Linked DNA regions of Homo sapiens. The protein of the gene in region 1 interacts with the protein of each later gene in a pairwise test. Each region holds a gene or a part of one and is shown on either strand. Other genes may lie near its edges. The genes, in order: PTDSS1 and TSHR.

Region 1 (3,823 bases):
CAGATTGCTTTAGACCTGGGCTGAATTAAGCAAGCCTGTCTTCCCCTAGCCCATTAGACAACCACAAGCTGCTTCTGCAAAGCAGGGCCTGACCCACAAAAATTGCTGCATGGCTGGGGGAGCTGATGAGAACCTGTGCTGTCTGTAAGCAAATAATTTCCAAAGAGGACCCAAAAGAGGTTGGATCTCTTTCTTCTTCCAAAGTCAGCAACTGCCCCAGAGAGGAGTGAAGAGATAGTTGGGCTGGAGACCTGGCGTGTGTAGTAGTGGAGATCCTTCTACATTGGGACGGGCATGCTACCCAACCCCTTTCTTCCCACCTCCTGCCCCAGACACCCTTACACACATGCATGCACGTTCCGTGATCTGATTATGATTTTCAAGATCTCTCTGTAGTCGTAAGCTAGATGTGAATACCTAGGTGCTTATTATAGCATCATCTATACTTTGTTATATGCCTGACACATTCCACAGTTTTCAAAAGCTATTATTATGGAAGTCTAAGCAAGAAATAATAGTGGCAGCGAGATGCATAAAAGAACAACCTGGGGAGGTAAAGTGAATAGGACTTGGTATTTGGTTAGGTGTCCAGCAAGCAAGGCAGAGGGTAAGGCCGCCAAGATCAGCCTAGGACCAGTTGGGAAGTCAGCAGAATCTGTCTTTACCCATCTTTTGCTCACAGGCATGCACCTGTCCACTTGACCCCCTTTCCAGGCTTCAGCTCTACACTGTCTTCAGTTAAAGCCTGTTCCTCCTGGTTCCCAGGGTTCTGCCTGCATGCAGCTCTCTGGCTGCTTTAAACTGCAATGCCCTGTGGCCCTTCCAGGACAAGGACCTCAGGTCTTATGAGGGGATAATTGGCAAATCTGTTCATTACTAACTATACTGCAAATAGACGGATTGGTCTTTATGATTTTTAAAATGCCTTTCCGCATGTCAAAGCATAGAGCTACTTAATAGAGTGTAAAGTCCTCCAGAGTTATCTGCAAGCTGTGATTACTTTAAGAGCAGCCTTCTAAAAACAGATCTTACCCCTTCCTTATCTAACCCTACACAGTGTATTCCAGAGTAAAGAAGAGGGTGGGGTGGTTGAGACATTTGAGGTTGACTGGACGTGGCCCTGCTCCTTAACCTAATATACAACCTGCTTCAGCTAAGGGCATTTCCCTCTGTCAGCCTGTGATTCTCTGTGACAAGAACGTGCTGTTCCAGAGTCCGGGAAGAAACTTTTCATCTTATTGCAGGGCAGTTTGTTTCTTTTAAAGCCTTATCTTGACTTACCCTATTGAATTTTATCCTCTTTTCTCCAGATTTCCCATTTACACAGCATAATCTCACATCATACTGCTTCTCAAAAAATAGAATTCTTAAAAATGTTTGTTCAGCTTTGCAAGTTGAAATGCATTTTATCTGAGAAGGAAATCTGATGTGTGGTGGGTTTCAGAAGAGACAGGGAAGCTCTTTTGCTCTCAGAAAGTATCATTTCTGGAATTTAAAACTATTATAGTTTATAGGAATTTTTTTCAGCTGGCTGATAATAGGGGGTGAATATTTGCCAACTCTTACTACTGCCTGTCAAATTAATTTTGGGAAGAAAGGATGTGAAATGTAGAGATTCCCAGTAAATGTTATATTATCATATTGTCATGCAGTCATATGATAAGATATTAAATTACTTAGAAATACGTATAATCAAAAACAAAGATATTAGAAATGGAACCAACATTCTGAAAAGCTTTGTAATTTTTAATATTTAAATTATGTAGTATCCGATATATTTTTGGGGAGGGGAGTTCTCTTTTAATTACTGAAGTTGGGTGCTTTTCTTCTTTTTTCTAGCATAACTATTTAAGGCTTTACATTTTCCTCTAAAGTTCAATTTTTACGTGGTGTATTTTCGTTATCATTATGACACGTTAAAAAAAATTCCTATTATGATTTCTTCTTTAATCCATGATACTTAGAAATGTGTGTTTAAATTTCCAAATCTATTGGGAATCTTTTATTTGTGCTTTAGTTACTGGCTTTAATATTGTTGCCCTGTGGTCTGATGACATGATCTATGTGATACCACTTCTTTAGGATATGTTGAGCCTTTGTAAAATTATTTTGCTTCTCATTTTAATGCAGCTTTTGCAATTCAGAGCAAAGCAGTTTTGATTTATAAACTCAAATACTTGTCTATTTTCCCTCAAGGCCCTTAAGTTATTAAAACTTTCTCATTTGTTACTGAGCAGGACTTATTTGTTGTCAAGTTCATATCTATTCTTTTTATTTACCGGCAGAATCCTGGAAGCAAGTTGATTTCTAGAGTTTCACTAATTATTCTCTTTTTTATTTTAAATAGGAGTATGCTGTGAACTGCCATGTGATCACCTGGGAGAGGATTATCAGCCACTTTGATATTTTTGCATTTGGACATTTCTGGGGCTGGGCCATGAAGGCCTTGCTGATCCGTAGTTACGGTCTCTGCTGGACAATCAGTATTACCTGGGAGCTGACTGAGGTAAGAAGGAGGGCATTGGGGGTTCCCCAGACTGTGCCATGTGTGTAGTTTATATATAGGAAAAAGTATGTCAGTTAACAGTCAGTTAATCCGTTCTCCAGCCCCTGTGGTACAAAACAGTATTTAAACCATCCCATAAGAATATTTAATACTTCTGTTTAAAAAACAAGCAAATATTAAAAATACCTCCTTGTTAACTTAATAAAGTGCACCTCTGTCCTGCAAGTCTTAAAGAGAAACAAATGAAATAAAGCTAAAGAATGAAGTTAAAATTCCAAGTAAGACAAATAAATGGGAATGAGGAGACCTGCTTAGAATTCAATAGATCAGTTGACCTACTAACTAGCTTCCAGTTTGAGATAATAGAATTGTGTGTTCAAGTACTATAAGAGCATCCAGGGTATTTGGTAGCTGCAAAATGGATTCCAAATGTTAGCTCTAATATGTCAGTAATCAAAAGTTTGTTGCATTTACTTAATAAAAGAGTTATAGTCTTGAAAAACCATTAGCAAAATGAAATTTTGGGAACTAACTCATTATTGTTCTATTATTATGAATCATTCCCAGTGAACAGAATTCGTCCACATGCGCAGTATACTTCTCCATGCTCATCATTGTCCTGACCCTAACTTAGAGACGTGTGCCAACTAGATGTGGCTTCTGTTAATGTGCCTCTCACTGTTCTGGAGGCCAGAAGTCCAAGATCAAAGCGTCGGCAGGACTGGTTCCCCCTGGGGCCTTTTGGAGCATTTTTTTCAGGCTCCTTCTCTATCTTTGTGGTTTGCTGGCAGTCGTGGTCCCTGGGCTTGTTGATGCATGACCCCTTCCTGGTCATGTGGCATTCTCCCTGTGCGTGTCTGAGCCTTCATGGTGTTCTTTTTTTTTTTTTTTTTTTTTTTTTTGCGACAGAGTCTTGCTCTCGCCCAGGCTGGAGTGCAGTGGCACGATCTCAGCTCACTGCAAGCTCCGCCTCCTGGGTTCACGCCATTCTCCTGCCTCAGCCTCCCGAGTAGCTGGAACTACAGGCGTGTGCCACCACGCCCAGCTAATTTTTGGTATTTTTAGTAGAGACGGGGTCTCACCATGTTAGCCAGGATGGTCTCAATCTCCTGTCCTTGTGATCTGCCCACCTCAGCCTCCCAAAGTGCTGGGATTACAGGCGTGAGCCACTGTGCCCAGCCCCATGTGTTCTTTTTCATAAGGACACAAGAGCATTCCCTTTTATAAGGACACAAGTCATATTGGATTAGCAGCTCACTGTACTGCCTATGATCTCATCTTAACAAAGTACCTCTCCAATGACTATCTCCAAATAAG
Region 2 (3,416 bases), on another chromosome or scaffold:
CATAGCTCCCTGGTTACATGCCTGCAGGCTTTGGAGTCAGCTGGGTTTATACCGCAGCTCTGCCATTTTTCAAGCTGTGTTATCCCAGCCTAGTTACTTAACCACTCTGAGTCTTTGGGAATGGAGATCCTAATACTAACATTCATAGCAGTTTTGAGAAGATTAAATGAGAAACTGAATGGAAAACACTGGAATGGAATGGCCTGGAATATTATAAGATCTTCATTAATATTAACTATGATATACAGTATGTGCACATCAGGCTGCTTATGAGCCTGCGAAGGAGGAATTGCCTTCATTTTCTCTCCAGGCTTTCTCTGATTCTTTTACTTTTTTGCTTTTACTCTGCATTATTTCCCCCATTGTGTCTTGTACAATCTCCTGTTCTCCTAATCCACCTTCATCATCTCTATTCAGTCCTCCTCAGCTTCTATGTATTTAGTGATTGACTTACTACACACATAATTGCAGTCAGGAAAATATCAGATCTAGGTGTGAGGGCAGAAGCTAAAACAGCCATACAAAGAAGGCCAATATGGTGGCCGGGCACAGTGGCTCACGCCTGTAATCCCAGCACTTTGGGAGGCTGAGATGGCCAGATCATCTGAGGTCAGGAGTTCGAGACCGGCCAGGCCAACATGGTGAAACCCCGTCTGTACTAAAAATACAAAAAACAAAATTAGCCAGATGTGGTGGTGGGTTCCTGTAATCCCAGCTACTGGAGAGGCTGAGGCAGAAGAATTGCTTGAACCCGGTAGGCGGAGGTTGCAGTGAGCCGAGATCGTGCCAGTGCACTCCAGCCTGGGCAACAAAGCAAGATTCTGAGATTCCATCACACACAGGCACATGCACACACACACACAAAGAAGGCCAATATGGGCATCATAGCTGCAAAAAGCCAGGAGTGGGGTAGAGGATGGTGATAGTGGACTCTACACTGATGCCATGCGGCATTGAGAAGGACTGGACAAGGGCTGGGTGGGAGGCTTAAGTGGACCTCAGGGGCAGGGTCTAGATTTTTCCCTAGCCTCCAGTTGAGAAGAGCAAGTCCATTGGACATTTTAAGCAGAACCCAAGAGATCACTCAAACTCTGCTCAGCAGCTGAGGCAAGTTAAAGAATCCCTTTTGTTGTGAGTCTGGTGAGCAAGGAAAAAACTAAATCTTATTTCCACAAGCATGCCTGTATGGTAGTGTCCATTTGTTCATTTGTTAAACAGATATTTACTGAGCACCTTCTATGTGCCTGGCTGTTGTAAATAGAACAGACAAGAATTCCCTCTTGTATTTTGCTTACTGTCTAATGGAGGAAGTCAGAAAATAAACAGGCTGGCCGGGGGCAGTGGCTCACTTCTGTAATCCTAGCACTTTGGGAGGCAGAGGTGGGCGGATCACTTGAGGTCAAGAGTTCAAGCCCAGCCTGGCCAACATGGTGAAACCCTGTATCTACTAAAAATACATAAATGTTTTATTTTTAAAATATTCAGTTTGAAACTAAATAATGATGAGTAGAGGCAGCCATGGGTTTTTCAGGCAATGGGAACATAGGGTTTTAGAGCTTTGAATAGGAATAATAATAACAATAACCACCATATGGCACTCACAAAGCTGCAGGTGCTATTGTAAGAGCCTTAAAAAGATAAATTCATTGAATCCTTTAATAACCCTATATGAAATAGTCACTCCCATTGTCCCATGTTACAAATGAGTTAACCAAACTTCATGGGCCTACCCAAGCTAGTCAATAATTGAGCCAGGTTCCCACCAAGGCGACTGGCTCCAGCATCCACATTTTTTTTTTAAACAGAGTCTCACTCTGTCGCCACTCAGCCTGGAATGCAGTGGCGCAATCTTGACTCACTGCAACCTCCACCTCCCAGGTTTAAGCGATTCTCCTGCCTCAGCCTCCCAAGTAGCTGGAATTACAGGCACGTGCCACTACGCCTGGCTAATTTTTGGATTTTCAGTAGAGATGGGGTTTCACCATGTTGGCCAGGCTGGTTCAAGCTCCTGACCTCAAGTGATGTGCCTGCCTTGGCCTCCCAAAGTGCTGGGATTGAGTCACTACAGGTGTGAGCCAGCACACTTGGCCACTTTTTTTTTTTTAATCACTGTTCTTGAAGTGGTTGCAGAAGAGAAATAAGACCAATGCCACTGGAGCACAGTAGGGGAGGGGAGGTCATAGGAATGATGTCACAGAAACAGGCCTGCCTGGATCCTGTAGAACCTTATAGAATTATGTACATCATAGTAAGTAGTTTGCACATTTTCATAAATGTGGGAACCATTCGTGGGTTTTAAACAAGCATTCTTTTTTTTTTTTTTTTTTTTGAGACAGGGTCTCACTCTGTCATCCAGGCTAGAGTATAGTGGCCTGATCTCGCCTCACTGCAGCTTTGACCTCCCCAGGCTCAGGTGATTTTCCCACCTCAGCCTCCCGAGTAGCTACGACCATAGGCACATACCACCATGCCCAGCCAATGTTTGCATTTTTTATAGAGATGGGATTTCACCATGTTGCCCAGGCTGGTCTCAAACTCCTAGGCTCAAGCAATCCACCTGCCTTGGCCTCCCAAAGTGCTGGGATTACAGTCATGAGCCACTGCGCCCAGCCTGGCACTGACTCTTTTCTGTTGCCTTGCAGAATCCTTGAGTCCTTGATGTGTAATGAGAGCAGTATGCAGAGCTTGCGCCAGAGAAAATCTGTGAATGCCTTGAATAGCCCCCTCCACCAGGAATATGAAGAGAATCTGGGTGACAGCATTGTTGGGTACAAGGAAAAGTCCAAGTTCCAGGATACTCATAACAACGCTCATTATTACGTCTTCTTTGAAGAACAAGAGGATGAGATCATTGGTTTTGGCCAGGAGCTCAAAAACCCCCAGGAAGAGACTCTACAAGCTTTTGACAGCCATTATGACTACACCATATGTGGGGACAGTGAAGACATGGTGTGTACCCCCAAGTCCGATGAGTTCAACCCGTGTGAAGACATAATGGGCTACAAGTTCCTGAGAATTGTGGTGTGGTTCGTTAGTCTGCTGGCTCTCCTGGGCAATGTCTTTGTCCTGCTTATTCTCCTCACCAGCCACTACAAACTGAACGTCCCCCGCTTTCTCATGTGCAACCTGGCCTTTGCGGATTTCTGCATGGGGATGTACCTGCTCCTCATCGCCTCTGTAGACCTCTACACTCACTCTGAGTACTACAACCATGCCATCGACTGGCAGACAGGCCCTGGGTGCAACACGGCTGGTTTCTTCACTGTCTTTGCAAGCGAGTTATCGGTGTATACGCTGACGGTCATCACCCTGGAGCGCTGGTATGCCATCACCTTCGCCATGCGCCTGGACCGGAAGATCCGCCTCAGGCACGCATGTGCCATCATGGTTGGGGGCTGGGTTTGCTGCTTCCTTCT

The links.
Region 2: the proteins of PTDSS1 (region 1) and TSHR interact in a two-hybrid assay, tested with the Homo sapiens proteins (one large-scale study listed by BioGRID and IntAct).

What each region holds. Positions count from the first base shown.
Region 1 is NC_000008.11:96,292,751-96,296,573, forward strand, and holds part of PTDSS1 (phosphatidylserine synthase 1), read left to right. Parts: intron 1-2,347; coding exon 2,348-2,506; intron 2,507-3,823. UniProt on the Homo sapiens protein: Catalyzes a base-exchange reaction in which the polar head group of phosphatidylethanolamine (PE) or phosphatidylcholine (PC) is replaced by L-serine. Catalyzes mainly the conversion of phosphatidylcholine.
Region 2 is NC_000014.9:81,140,298-81,143,713, forward strand, and holds part of TSHR (thyrotropin receptor isoform 1 precursor), read left to right. Parts: intron 1-2,642; coding exon 2,643-3,416. UniProt on the Homo sapiens protein: Receptor for the thyroid-stimulating hormone (TSH) or thyrotropin. Also acts as a receptor for the heterodimeric glycoprotein hormone (GPHA2:GPHB5) or thyrostimulin. The activity of this receptor is mediated by G proteins which activate adenylate cyclase.